2 linked regions of the Homo sapiens genome follow. The protein of the gene in region 1 interacts with the protein of each later gene in a pairwise test. Each region holds a gene or a part of one and is shown on either strand. Other genes may lie near its edges.

The links. The genes of interacting proteins can lie anywhere in the genome.
Region 2: the proteins of HID1 (region 1) and CSDE1 interact in binary tests that used the Homo sapiens proteins (3 or more experiments, as listed by UniProt).

What each region holds. Positions count from the first base shown.
Region 1 is NC_000017.11:74,962,734-74,969,760, forward strand, and holds part of HID1 (protein HID1), read right to left. Parts: intron 1,900-7,027; coding exon 1,750-1,899; intron 1,178-1,749; coding exon 1,007-1,177; intron 349-1,006; coding exon 232-348; intron 1-231. UniProt on the Homo sapiens protein: May play an important role in the development of cancers in a broad range of tissues.
Region 2 is NC_000001.11:114,747,985-114,755,011, forward strand, and holds part of CSDE1 (cold shock domain-containing protein E1), read right to left. Parts: intron 2,224-7,027; 5' UTR 1,837-2,223; intron 1-1,836. UniProt on the Homo sapiens protein: RNA-binding protein involved in translationally coupled mRNA turnover.

The sequences.
Region 1 (7,027 bases):
GACAATGGGTGTCTGTGCCCAGCCATCCGAACGCAGCGGGCAGGGCCAGCCCCAGCTGGCTTCCCTCAGCTGTACCAGCTGCCACCCAGGCCTACATGTGCCAGGCAGCTCAGCTCTCCTGGAGCCCCCCGGCCCCCAGTGCAATCCGCCCAAGGGAACTTCAACTGGCCCGGCCCCAACCCAGGACCAGAGCCTACTCCGCCTGGGGGTGGGGGGCTGGGGGACACTCACCACAGTGCTCCTCCGGTGGCTCTGAACCGTGAAGTCCGGGCAGAAGAGCAGGTCAGCAATGGCCAGGAGCAGGGACTCGGCCAGGGGCCTGGCATGCTCATCATCCTCTTCTCCCTGCTGGGGACACAGCACCCACAGGCTGCCTCAGTGATAGCTGGCCAGGAAGAGGTGGCCCAGGGCTTGGGGGTGGTGGAGGACAGGGGCTGAGCCCAGGCGGGCACCCATGGGCAGAGGAATGAAGGGACAGGAAGTGGACTCCTGGTTGCCCCAAACCTCCCAAGGCAGAAGTGGGGCACAGCAGGGAGCCGGGCCGGGAACAGCGAGGGAACCTCCCCTACTGACTGGAGGGGGCCGGGCGGTGACCCCAACATCAAGAGTCTCAGCCCTGCTAGGAATCACTGTGTTGCATCCCTCAGCACCTCACCTGGACATAAACCCAGGGCAGGTGGTGTGGGGGAGAGAGGACAGTGTGGTCCCTCTCCGGCCCTCAGAGGGCCCAGCTCCTCTGCCTCCACCTCTGCCCAGTGACCCCTGGCTCTCAGCTTCTCTCCATACCCTACTTCCTCCAGACTGTGGGCACAGAAACCCCCATGGGAGGGGAACTGAGGGCCCAAGGAGGTGGCATTGAACACCATCCCTCAGCAGCACCCACTGGCCCCACCCCTGTACTTCCCAAATCCCAGAAGAGGCTTGGAGGAGCATGGCCGGCCCTAAAGGGCGCTCTCCCTGTGACGCCAACTCTGCCTCCCACCCAGCCCTGGCCAGGCCCACAGACCCCTCCTCGCCCTGCCCCGGGCACTGTGGACCAGAAGAAGCCCCTCCAGTCGGGGTCCTCAAAGATGTAGGGCAGCACGCGGGTGAGCAGCCGGCTGCAGTTCAGGACGATCTGCTTCTCCTTCTCCGAGTGGCAGCCACTCTCAGCTCCCTGCACCAGCTTCTCAACGGCCTGTGGGGGCAGGCAGGAGCAGAGGGCAGGCTGGAAGGTGGGGAAAGGACCCTGGCACTTGGGGTCAGGGTGGGCACCCAGGCTGCAGAGGAGGGTCAGGGGGGGCACCCAGGCTGCAGAGGAGAGACAGTGGGGCCACAGGCAGAGGAGCCACCTGGAGTTGGGGTCGGCCAGCCTTGGGGGACTGGGACACAGGCCAGAGCAGCTTGGAGCATCAGGACAGCCAGGGCCCAGCTAGCCACTGGATGGCTGAGGCCTTGCTAAGTGAGTCTCCCAGCCTCAGTTTCCCTATCTGTAAACTGGCGACCCTGGCAGTACCCACCCCACAGAGGGAGCTAAATGAACTGATCTGTGGAAGGTGCTCAGTCAGATGTGGCCTGGAGGACTCCCCCATAAATGACGGCTGCCGTGGTCCCAACGCCCAGCAAAGAGAACCACAGAGAAGTGGAAGAGCTGAGTGAGGCCACAGGGCTGCCTGCCCCTGTGGGGCGGGAGGCCCTGGATGCGCCTGCCTTCTCCTGCTGTGGGCTGGGAGGGTGGAAGAGTAGCAGGAGGGACTGGGCAGCCCTCACCTTGTAGCACAGGGTGGCCAAGTTGGAGGGTGACTCTTCCCGCACGGCCCGGATCTCTGCTGCCGGCACCAGTGCAAACACATCCTGCACCGAGGTGGCTGTGTCTGCCCAGAACTGGTCCCAAAAGGCATCATCGGTGGCTTCCACGGGCTGTGGGGGGACCAAGGGTCCAGAGTTACACAACTCCTGGCCAGAGGGCCTACACTTTGCCCAACTTGTGGCCAGGAGAGACCCTGAGAGGGAAGCCAGAGTCCCCCTACCTGCTGGGGTCCCAGAGCCATCCCACATGGGTGGGGGACATACTTCAGCCACCACAACCCCTGGACAGCACAGTCAGGCTGGAGACACCAGGCATGCATGGTCAGGGGTCAGCTAGGCACAGAGTCAGCCAAAGCCCAACGCCACCCCTGAGGAGGTGTGTGACCCTGGTTAAGTCACCATCCTCCCCTGGCAAAGCAGGCTGACCTCCCCACCTGGGCACAGCCCCAGGCCACACCATTAGGTCAAATGCTCAGGGATCCAGGTCAAGACCATGCCCTCTCTCCATGGGAAGAAGACAAAGGTGACTTGTACTCCGTTTCCAGTCACCCAGGATGCCCGCCACAGGCCTCCGGCTCTGCCCTCTCACAGCACACCCAAAACAGCTGCCACATCTGGTGAATTCACCTCTGTGGCTCTCTGACCCCAACACGCCCCTCTCAGCGCCCACCTCCAGCGCTGCAGCTCAGGCTGCCCTTGCCAGGGCTGCCAACTTCAAATCCACCTCTTTCAACCCTGCCTCTATGCTGCTGCCAACGCATGCACCGAGGTGGCATCCTGCATGCACCACGGCACCGCTGCCACAGGCACTGCTTCCTCACCCAGAGCCCTTCAGGGGCTCCCCACTGCCTGCTGGGACAAGTCCAAACCTCAGCCCAGCACTCAGCCAAGATCTCACAGAAACATGCCTTACACACGTGCACACAGACACACATGCGTACACACGTGTCATACACACATACACCTGCATTTACTACTCCAGGACTCCACCCTGCCATCTCTTCTCTTGACCTTCACCCAAGCTGTTCTCTCTTCCCCCTTCCCCTTTTCCCCACAACAATGCATTCCAAAATCCATTCCCACGGAGGCAACAGGCCTTAAAAACACACATGCCCAGCCAGGCACAGTGGCTCATGCCTGTAATCCCAGCACTTTGGGAGGCTGAGGTGGGTGGATCACCTGATCAGGAGTTCGAGACCAGCCTGGCCAACATGGTGAAACTCTGTCTCTACTAAAAATACAAAAATTAGCCAGGCGTGGTGGCAGGCGCCTGTAATCCCAGCTACTCGGGAAGCTGAGGCTGGAGAATCACTTGAACCCAGGAGGCAGAGGTTGCAGTGAGCCAAGATCATGCCACTGCACTCCAGCCTGGGCAACAAGAGCAAAACCCCATCTCAAAAAAAAAAAAGTACACAAGATATAAAACTTCGTCTAGGATGCTCACAATTCATGTTAAATTATACATGAATAAAAGACTAGAAGAGGCTGGGTGAGGTGGCTCACGCCTGTAATCCCAACACTTTGGGAGACTGAGGCGGGTGGATCACAAGGTCAGGAGTTCAAGACCAGCCTGGCCAAGATGGTGAAACCCCGTCTCTACTAAAAACACTAAAATTAGCTGGGCATGGTGACGGGTGCCTGTAATCCCAGCTACTCAGGAGGCTGAGGCAGAGAATTGCTTGAACCCAGGAGGCAGAGGTCGCAGTGAGCCGAGATCGCGCCACTGCATTCCAGCCTGGGTGACAGAGCAAGACTCTGTCTCAAAAAAAAAAAAAAAAAAAAAAAGACTAGAAGAAAATGAACCAGAATGTTAGTAGCAACTCTCTCTCTGGGTGGTTTTATATTTTTCTTTATGTTTTTCTGTAAGAGCACATGTTACTATTTTTTTCCTTTTGAATGTTCATCTGTTAAGGGACCAGAGTGTCCAAGGCACGCGCACCTCCTCGGGCCCATCCCTTTATGGCTCCTTCTGAGTGTCACTTCCTGCAAGACACCTTCCTGCTTTCTCCAACACAGCTTTTTTCCTTCTCTGAAATCCTACAGCCAATAAAACCTGAGGTCCCTGCTACCACCACAAGCCTGCACTTCATACATGTTACTCTTATCATCAGAAAAAAATATATATCTTATTTAAAAATAATTCTGGGGCCGGGCGTGGTGGCTCATGTCTGTAATCCCAGCACTTTGGGAGGCCAAGGTGGGAGAATTGCTTGAGCCCAGGAGTTCAAGACCAGCCTGGGCAACATGGCTTTTGTAGAGACCCTATCTCTACAAAAAATAAAAACAAATTCACCAGGTGGGCCTGCCCAACCTCTAAGGAGGCTAAGGTGGGAGGATCCCATAAGCCCAGAAGGTCAAGGCTGCAGTAAGCTGTGATGGCACCACTGCACTCAAGCCTGGGCAACAGAGCAAGACTCTGTCTCAAAAAAGTAATAATGGCCAGGTGAGGTGGCTCACACCTGTAATCCCAGCAGTTAGGGAGGCCAAGGCAGATGGATCACAAGGTCAGGAGTTCGAGACCACCCTGGCCAATGTGGTGAAACCCCGTCTCTACTAAAAATACAAAAATTAGCTGGGTGTGGTGGTGCATGCCTGTAGTCCCAGCTACTCAGGAGGCTGAGGCAGAAATCGCTTGAACTCGGGAGTTGAAGGTTGCAGTGAGCCAAGATCGTGCCACTACACTCCAGCCTGGGTGACAGAGTGAGACTCCATTTCAAAAATAATAATAATAATAATAGGCCAGGCGCGGTGGCTCACGCCTGTAATTCCAGCACTTTGGGAGGCTGAGGTGGGTGGCTCACGAGGTCAGGAGTTTGAGACCAGCCTGGCCAATATGGTGAAACCCCTCTTTACTAAAAATACAAAAATTAGCCAGGCATGGTGGCACATGCCTGTAATCCCAGCTACTGGGGGAGGCTGAGGCAGGAGAATCACTTGAACCCAGGAGGCGGAGGTTGCAGTGAGCCAAGATCGCACCACTGCACTCCAGCCTGGGCGACAGAGTGAGACTCCGTCTCAAAAAAATAAAAAATATAATAATAATAATGGCTGGGCACAGTGGCTCACACCTGTGATCCCAACACTTTGGGAGGCTGAGGCAGATGGATTGCTTGAGCCCAGGAGTTTGAGACCAGCCTGAACAACATGACGAAATACCATCTCTACAAAAAAAATCAAAAAAATTAGCTGGGCATGGTGGCACACACCTGTCATCTCAGCTACTTGGGAGGCTGAGGTGGGAGGACTGCCTAAGCCCAGGAAGCTGCAGTGAACCAGGATCGTACCATGGCACTTCAGCCTCGGTGACAGAGTGGTTCACACCTGTAATCCCAGAGCTTTGGGAGGCTGAAGCAGGAGGATCACTTGAGCCCAGAAGTTGAAGACCAGCCTGGGTAACATAGTGAGACTATCTCTACAAAAAAAAAAAGAAAAAATTAGCCACGTGTAGTGGCACGCACCTGTAGTCCCAGCCACTCAGGAGGCTGAGGCAGGAAGATCACTTGAGCCCAGGAGTTCAAGGCTGCAGTGAGCTGTGATTGTGCCACTGTACTCCAGCGTGCATGACTGAGTGAGACCCTGTCTCTAAATATTTAATAATAATAATTCTGGTCTCTGAAGCTACTTCTTCTAAGAAGCCTCCCAGAGCCCCAGGCTTGCTTGCTCCCACCTGGGAACCTCCGGCCCCACCCCACCCCCACCCTGCGTTGTTCCTGCCTCCACAGTCTGGGTGCACGTGCCTTGAAGCCCCATCAGTCCCTGACCTTGCCAGTAAGGCATATGGCAGATATTCAGCCAATATTTGTTCCACTGAAGCTGCGCTCAGTCCTGGGGACCCCTTCAGCCTGGCCACAGAGCAGGGCTGAGCACCCGTGGAACTCTCCAAACTCAGAGTTGGGGTCGCATGCCTCACCAAGGTCCAGGCATACCCCAGCCCACTCCCAGAGCAAACACCCCCACCCCACCCCAGGGAGCTGCAGGGTAACATGTGGCCATGACTCTCAGTCCCAGAACTGGTAGAGCGAGTTCTTCACTGGGGGAGAGGAACAAAGGCTAAAGGAGGGCCCTGGGGCTGGGGTTTGCTGGCCCTTGGGCCCTCAGCCAGGACAGCCCTCTGGCACTCCCTGGAGCGCAGGGACATGGCACCCCAGTCTGGGTGGCCTGGAGCCAGGATGGGGTAAGGAAGGACATCCCAGGAAACCCACAGAGCCATCTGGGAGTGCCTCTGGGAAGCCGCCATCCCTGACACTTTTCCCACCTCCCAGGTAGCTACTACCCCCTTCAAAGGGCAGAAACTAAGCACAAGCAGGCATGACCTCTGACCTAGTTCATCAGGCAGTGTCACCGGGGGACTAAATCCAAAATGAAGAAAGAGACTTACTAGCCCATTCTGGAAGCAGAGGAGAGATCCCAGCCATGACAGATCTCAGCCTTGAACTTTAGGAACAGGACTTTGCCTCCCTGTTTCCTCAGCTTGGGCCTCCTCTCCTGGTCCCACTGTGGCTTGGACATTCGGATTTGGTGACCACCTGCCCAGGCCAAGCTGATGCTACAGGCATTAGTCAGGGTCACTGAGGCCCCTTAGGCTTCTAATGGGAGAAACGTGGCTCAGCGCCTGCCTCAATGACCCCAGTTGGCCTCCACCCAGCCCGCCCAAGGAAGCTTCTAATATCTGATCTTTTTTTTTCTTTTTTGAGACCGAGTCTTGCTCTGTGGCCCAGGCTGGAGTGCAGTGGTGCAATCTCGGCTTACTGCAAGCTGTGCCTCCCGGGTTCACGCCATTCTCCTGCCTCAGCCCCCGGGATTACAGGCGCCTGCCACGACGCCCGGCTAATTTTTTTGTATTTTTAGTAGAGATGGGGTTTCACCATGTTAGCCGGGACGGTCTCGATCTCCTGACCTCGTGATCCACCCGCCTCAGCCTCCCAAAGTGCTGGGATTACAGGCATGAGCCACCGCACCTAGCCAATATCTGATCTTTGAAGGAAGTGTTTTTGCTGGAGGTAGGCAGGCCCCTGCTGCTAGGGCCACAGAAACTGAGCTACCCTGGTAAAAATCCAGGTATTCTTCTCCCCTTATTCTTTTTCTTTTGTTTGTTTTTGAGTCAGGGTCTTGCTCCGTTGCCCAGACTGGAGTGCAGTGGCACAATCATAGCTCACCGTAACCTTGAACTCCTGGGCTCAAGTGATCTTCCTGCCTCAGCCTCCTGAGTGGCTGGGACTACAGGCGCACCCCACCCAGC
Region 2 (7,027 bases), on another chromosome or scaffold:
AAATCAGCTAAGGTAAGAAGAAACAAATAGAAAAACTAAATGCTACAATTACCTTAAAATTAAATAACAGTGTCTGTTTATGAGACATAGATAATTTTACTATAGTTTTTAGTTGTTAAGGAATAATTCTAGTGCACAGCAAGGTCACTGACACTATTACATAATCCTTCAATAAATTGGAAATAAAGTCCTAAGCGCTTCTTGAAATAGCAGTGAAGCTTTTGTAACTGAATGACTTATTTTCATTCTTCATTTTATTTGACCTCTGTAGCATCTAAAAAAATGTTTACCATTGACTTCCTGAAATTATCGTTGGTGCTTTTTCCTGACTTCTATGTCTTTGCTCTCTTCATTGGTGCTTCTTCCTTTTATTACCTATACACTGATGACTCCTTTCTGAATTCCTTTATGTCTAACTTTAGAAAATCTGGAAACTAAAGATTAAAAAGGAAAATTGCTCTTCATAAGCCTACCCTCAAAGTTAACCACTGTTCAATATTCCATACTAGTGTATTTCCTTCAACTTCAGATTGCTATCTAATGAACACAATAGATTTCCATAACATATTTTAATATCAGTAAGTTACTACTCTAACTTCCCTATTCCTATGAACAATGAAGGTTTCTAGTTTGCACAACTGGATTTGATAAAGCCATTCTCTCCACATTTATCTTCAGATTCAATTGGTCCCCAAGTCCTCACTTCTAAATCATCAGAACACCTAGCACCTACCTTTTTCTCTACCTACACCTTAGCTTTTATCTTCCTTATACTTGATCCACTGCTTTTGACAGGTCTTCCCATCCTCAGCCTTTCCCTCAAAAGTGTCACCATTTGTCTTTTAAAGGTACACTTCTGAATATTACTTTAAAATGTGAAGCAATAAAGCTATCTTACTTTTGGGGGAAAAACCCTTAAGCCCTTGCTTATAGACATCTGATGGCTCTCCTACGGAATAAAGACAAATGCATTGGGCCAAGCCTCCAGCAAACTTCCCTTTCATAACTCTCCCGCAAAATTATATTCTCTACTCTGTTCATAATGAACAACTTAATATATACCATGTGCTTTCACGTAGCCCTGAATCTGCTAATTCTGTTACCTCTATACCTCTACCAATGTCTCTTCTACCTCTTAACAAGGTACTACTCACCTTCAAATATCCCTTTTCTGTAGGCTTTCTTTACCCTCCTCCTTACCTCCAAGGGAACAGCTTCAGTTATATTCTTAATATTTTATTAGTATCTTTTAGCCTATATTGTGATATTGTGTAACAAATTGTTCTAAATCATTAAGTCCATTAGTATCTTATTCATTCGTTATATTTCAGCACTAGCAATGCCTAACAATACAGTAGGCATGTCAACCATTTACAAATGTGCACTGTATACCGTTCACAAATATGCACTGCAAATGTAGGCATGGATATAAAGTAAGGTTCTTTCCTCAAGAAGCTAACATTGAAGACAGTAGAGAGAAAGAAACAGACGTCAGTAGCAAATATCACCAAAGTTTCACAGACCCTCATAGAAAGACTGCAATGCACATTCTTATTTGAAATCCTAACTTCTAAATAGTACAGACGGAGCTTCTCTAAGAGACCAGCAAGTCGAGAGATCAGCATGTATTAATATAATCTGGTATGAAAAATGTTTGACCATAAATACTGTCCTTATCTAACAAGAGATAGTGTTGATATTTCATACTAGTTGAGAATAGAAAAACTGTCTTCTGAATACCTTTAGAAAAGAACAAATAAAGATTTTATATTTGACCAAATAATCAGGAAATCTAGAATTATGGAACTGATTCTTAATAGGAAATTACAAACCTACCTCGCAGTGATACTCAAATATTGCACTTTCAGTAGTATTTGCTGATTCTTCTTTTTCAGCACACGTTTCAAAGGATGAAAGTTGCTAGTATTAAAAAAAAGAGCGAGAGAAAATGATCTACCAAGCTAATAAAGAATACAACTGCTGCTGTACCGGGCAATCTCACAGTACAGCACTGAAGAAAACAAAGACTACTAGCAGCGTTGGGAAGTGCTCTTTCAAAGCTGTTGAGTAGGCACAAACTTCTTGTTTCAGATCAAGTGTTGTGTCTTCAACTTAAGTGTACTCTTCTTTGGTCTTGTTAGTTGTTACGAGGTTTGTTCCTTGCCTGATCTGAACTTGAAGCAGCAGTTTCAGGTGGTAAAGTCTGTTCTGTTACACTTCATACTAAAGGTAAAAAATGAAGACATTAAGTATAACATACATAAAATAATCAGGGACAGTGGGTGAGAAGAGGGACAAACTCATTTCATTAACTTAGAATCATGGGTCATGCAAGTAATGCAGGAAACTTGGAAGCATGCTCATCTGATGTTATTTGGAGCAATCTCTCAAGTACTAGCAACTACCTCCTTTGGTATCTCATACCCAAGACCTCAAATTATTCCATAGTCTTTATTGACCTCTTCCCCCAAATAAGCTCAGTTACATGGCATAATGTTTAATTTAGTGCAAGTATTTTATAAGGATCTAGCTCTGTGGAAAACATAAAAGAAGTCCCTGCCATGAGAGCATAGACAATCTTGCTGAAAAGACAAGATGTAAACATGGAAAAAAAAAACAGAGTATAGGACAAAAATGCCAAAAATTATTTTGCTCAATTAGTATCTAGGTATCTATTATGTCACAGACTATCTAGAAATATTATTTATTGTTTATCCACAACTGCATGTCCATCAAAGCAACCAAGGCTTTTAAATAAGTGGAATTTGAAGTGAACCTGGAAAATCAGGCAGAATTCTAGGAGAAAGAAAATAGCTGAGTATTCTAGGCATGAAACAGCACATAAGTCAAGCGAGAATATGCCACTAAATTCTTTCTTCAGAGCAGCGACCATGCATTCTATGATTTTCTAAGCCCAGCATCAAGTGAAGTCTTCTGCATGAATGCCTGTGGCAACATGTGTGGCTTGTTGTTTCAGAGGAAAATCAACAGGCTAGCCTGGCTAGAACAGAGAGCTGGGCTGAAGTGAAATAGGATATGTAGTGTGACAGGTGTAGCGGAGCCCGATTATGAAGCATTTCAACGTGATGTAACAGGAAACAGTGCCTTAGTTTTTGATGAAAGTGGTATTAAGTCTTGAAATCCTAAAGGAGATGACTTAGTAAGCAAACAGAAATCTCATTTGCACTGCTGCAGTAAATAGATGAGAAATGTCTATAGAAGAGAAATAAAATTTATTTATCAGTAAAAATCACATTTCTGCTTTATATTAGCTATAAAATAAACAACAATTTTGCACTGACTCCAAAGTTACAAAATGGTGTTAACGAAAATTATTTCTACAGAGATAAGAAAAAGGTGTACGTGCTGAGAAATGGATATTTGAAAACATCAGAAGAATGATTATCAGGTGAGAGGTCAGAGCTGATTAAATAGCTCAGACCAGAAGAGCCTAATCGCAATCACTGGTACTAGTAAATACCATGAACAAGTTATTTAATCTCTCTAAGTTTCACTTTCCTCACATGTAAAATAAAAACTCAATAACAGCTGATCTGGCCATTTTCTATTCTCTAACATCCCATGTTCCTTCAAATATCAAATGTTACATACACTTGTCTGATCTTTCAACTTTATTTAGATCATTCTCCTATTACCCAGACTAGATATATGTCTCAGGGTAATGGTGCTCAAATACTTGGGAAGCTTTAAAAAAAAAAAAACAAAAACAAACCTATGCCCAGCCTCCACTCAGAGTAATACAACTGGTTTGAGGTAGGGCCACTTCTTTAACTATCTTGATTCTTCCCCTCTCCATCACCATACCCAATGTTGCAAGTTGTGTTAGTATTTCCCTCGCTATATCTTTTGTATTCATCTCTTATCCTACTAAGTGACATATTTTAGCTCAGGTGTCTAATATATCCGCCAACTTCCAGTGTGCACACTTTCCATTTTCTGTCACATACCACCACCAGACTATCAAAAACTTGAATTTTGGCCAGGTGAGTTGGCTCACGCCTGTAATCCCAGCACTTTGGGAGGCCTTGGCAGGAGGTCTGCTTGAGCCCAGGAGCTCCAGACCAGCCTGGGCAACGTGGAGAAACCCCATCTCTACTAAAAATACAAAAAATTAGCCAGGCATGGTGGTATACGCCTGGAGCCTCAGCTACTTAGGACTGGGAAGTCAAGGCTGCAGAGAACAAGATAGTGACACAGCACTACAGCCTGGGAGACAGATCAGAACCTTGTCTCAAAAAACAAAACAAAACAAAAACTCTCCAATTTCATTTCTCATCTCCCCTGTCAAACATCTTCAGTTATTTTTCCACCATTCTAGATGGGAAGTTTTTAATCCTGGCTATCCACCCACCCCCAGCAACCTTAAACAAACAAACAAACAAAAACCAACAAAATCAAAGCCTGAGTCCCGTACAAAGATTCTAAATTTAACTACACTAGGTTAGGTGCCAGGCCTTGTTATCTCCCCCCAACCCCTGCTCCAAGTGTTTCTGACTTCCAGCCAGGATTAAGAACTACTATTCCAGGTGTCTCTATTCTACCTTCCATCCTTACTCTCTACTGTGTTCCAGTTCTACCAGAAGTCCATTACCTCGCCTAATCCTTAAACACAACTCTTGGGAGATTCCTGAATTCTAGCCACCTTTGCTTATATGGGTCTTCCCACAAAAAAATACTATGTTGTGATCTTCAAGGTGACAAAAAAGCCTTTCTTGACCATTCCAGCAGACTCATTCATTAATTCCTACTAATGAATGGGGCAGTAACATCCACTGCCTGCACCAAGCAATTTGCAGCAAGTGATACCAAGCAATTTCTGTACTTTGTTTACTTCATGTTTTTATGTATCTTGTTCCTCCAATTCTATTTCAAATTTCTGAGAGGTAAACTCAAATTTCTTTATCACAGCCTCCTTTCGCACCTAATCCAGTGCTGCCATATACAACCAAAGGAAAAAGGTAGTTAATCCTTAATAAGCAAAAGGACGCCACAATTCAAGTGTAAACAGTTATGCCACAATTCAAGTGTAAACAGTTATACCACCTTTAATTATATAGTTTTAATTATCCAATCAAGAAATAATCTCTTCTTTAAAAAATACAGACTGTGTATATTGGTTTTATCTTAATGCTTTAGGTGTATTAATGAACCCAAAGAACTCAACATGGAGAAAACAAGTTATCTTGAAACACTTGAACTGGATTAACCCATTCCAGGTTGTCGTATCACATTAAGAACTGTCAAGTCCAAGATTCAGTAACACAAAAAAAGAGATTTCTGGAACTGAAACTCTGGAGTACTGCAGGGCCATTCTTAGGCACTAATGAGGTCTATTAGGAGCTATTAAAGCTCAAACGAACCCACCAACAGTCATGAATAATTTACTGGCCGAATTAACATCTTCACAGCTTCTATAGTTAACTAAATGTTTTTCAATTAAATTAACACTTACTGAAGAACTTAAAGGTATTGGTCAGGCAGTTTAATATAAATAGCTATCCACTCATGCCCGGATTAACATTAATTGGTGCTACTAACCACCTCTTTTGCCTTAACCCTAGGAACACAAGTGCATCTCCTCCATCCCCCTAAAAGCTTGAAACTTAAGTTGCATGAAACACTGGGTATTGGGCTGGGGTGGTGGCTCTCGCTTGTAATCCCCAGCACTGTGGCAGGCCAAGGTGGGAGGATTGTCTGAGACCAGCCTGGGCAACATGGTGAGATGCTGTCTCTACAAAAAATTTTAGAAATAAAAAATAAATTCACTGGGTGTGGTGGCATGCACCTGTAGTCCCAGCTACTCGGGAAGCTGAGGCAGGAGGATCACTTGAATCCAGGAGTTTGAGGCTGCAGTGAGCTATGACTGTGCCACTGCACTCTTGCCTGGGCGACAGAGTAAGACGCTGACTCAAAACAATCGCCCCCACAAACCCACCATAGGGTACCAATAAAAACACTAGGGAACAATTTAAATGTGTATCTGAGAATCATACTGTGTGCTAAGTAATCAACTCCTTTTCCCTTTGCTCAGCATGGAAATAGTATTATTACTTAATCACTGCAATCTCCACCTCCCGGGTTCAAGCGATTCTCCTGCCTCAGCCTCCCCAGTAGCTGGGACTACAGGCGTGTACCACCAGGCCTGGCTGGCTAATTTTTGTATTTTTAGCACAGATGGGGTTTCACCATGTTGGTCAGGCTGGTCTCGAACTCCTGACCTCAAGTGACCCACCTGCCTCAGCCCCCCAAAGTGCTGGGATTACAGGCGTGAGCCACTGCACCTGGCCACCACCTGTTTTATTTCATGTCTTCCTCGGCTGTTTTACCTCAAAGGCCTAGCATAAGCCATGACATAGTCGGCACTAAATGAAGAGGTTAAACTAACACATTTATGTGGTAAGTAATCCATCTAAAATGTATCACACTACCTAGTTTATTATTTTGAAAGTATGTGCAGCACTCACTTCGGGAAAAGTTAATGAAAGGCTAAGCCAGTCTACAAAAGTCTGCTCACCTAACCCACTTCCTTTAGGCAGTATCTTCTTTTAGGCAGGAAAAAACAAAGACCCAAATAGGTAGCATAGGACTGAAAAGTTTCTCTATTGCCTGACATTTCATTGAGCACCACATTTTATAACTGAAGTGCTTAATAGGTCTTAATTCATTTTTACTTTAGGATCTAAGGTAAACGATAAACTCTAGATAATTAACCAACCTAAGTCATCTGTTGAGTAAAAATAAAAAATCAAACTGACACAACTATCTTTTTGTATCTGTGTAGTAACAACTGTGCTGGATTAATTATCTAAACAGCTACTGAGATATTTAAAATTATCTATCACTTAACTGCTTATATATACACCCAGAAACCTAATAGTTTTAAGCAGGACAAATGGCAGTGTGGGAAGATGCTGAAGAAACATTCTAGACACATCAGAAAACACCACAGACCAGCAGTTTCCAACAGAAATACAGTGTAATTATAATTCTAGTAACCATATTACAG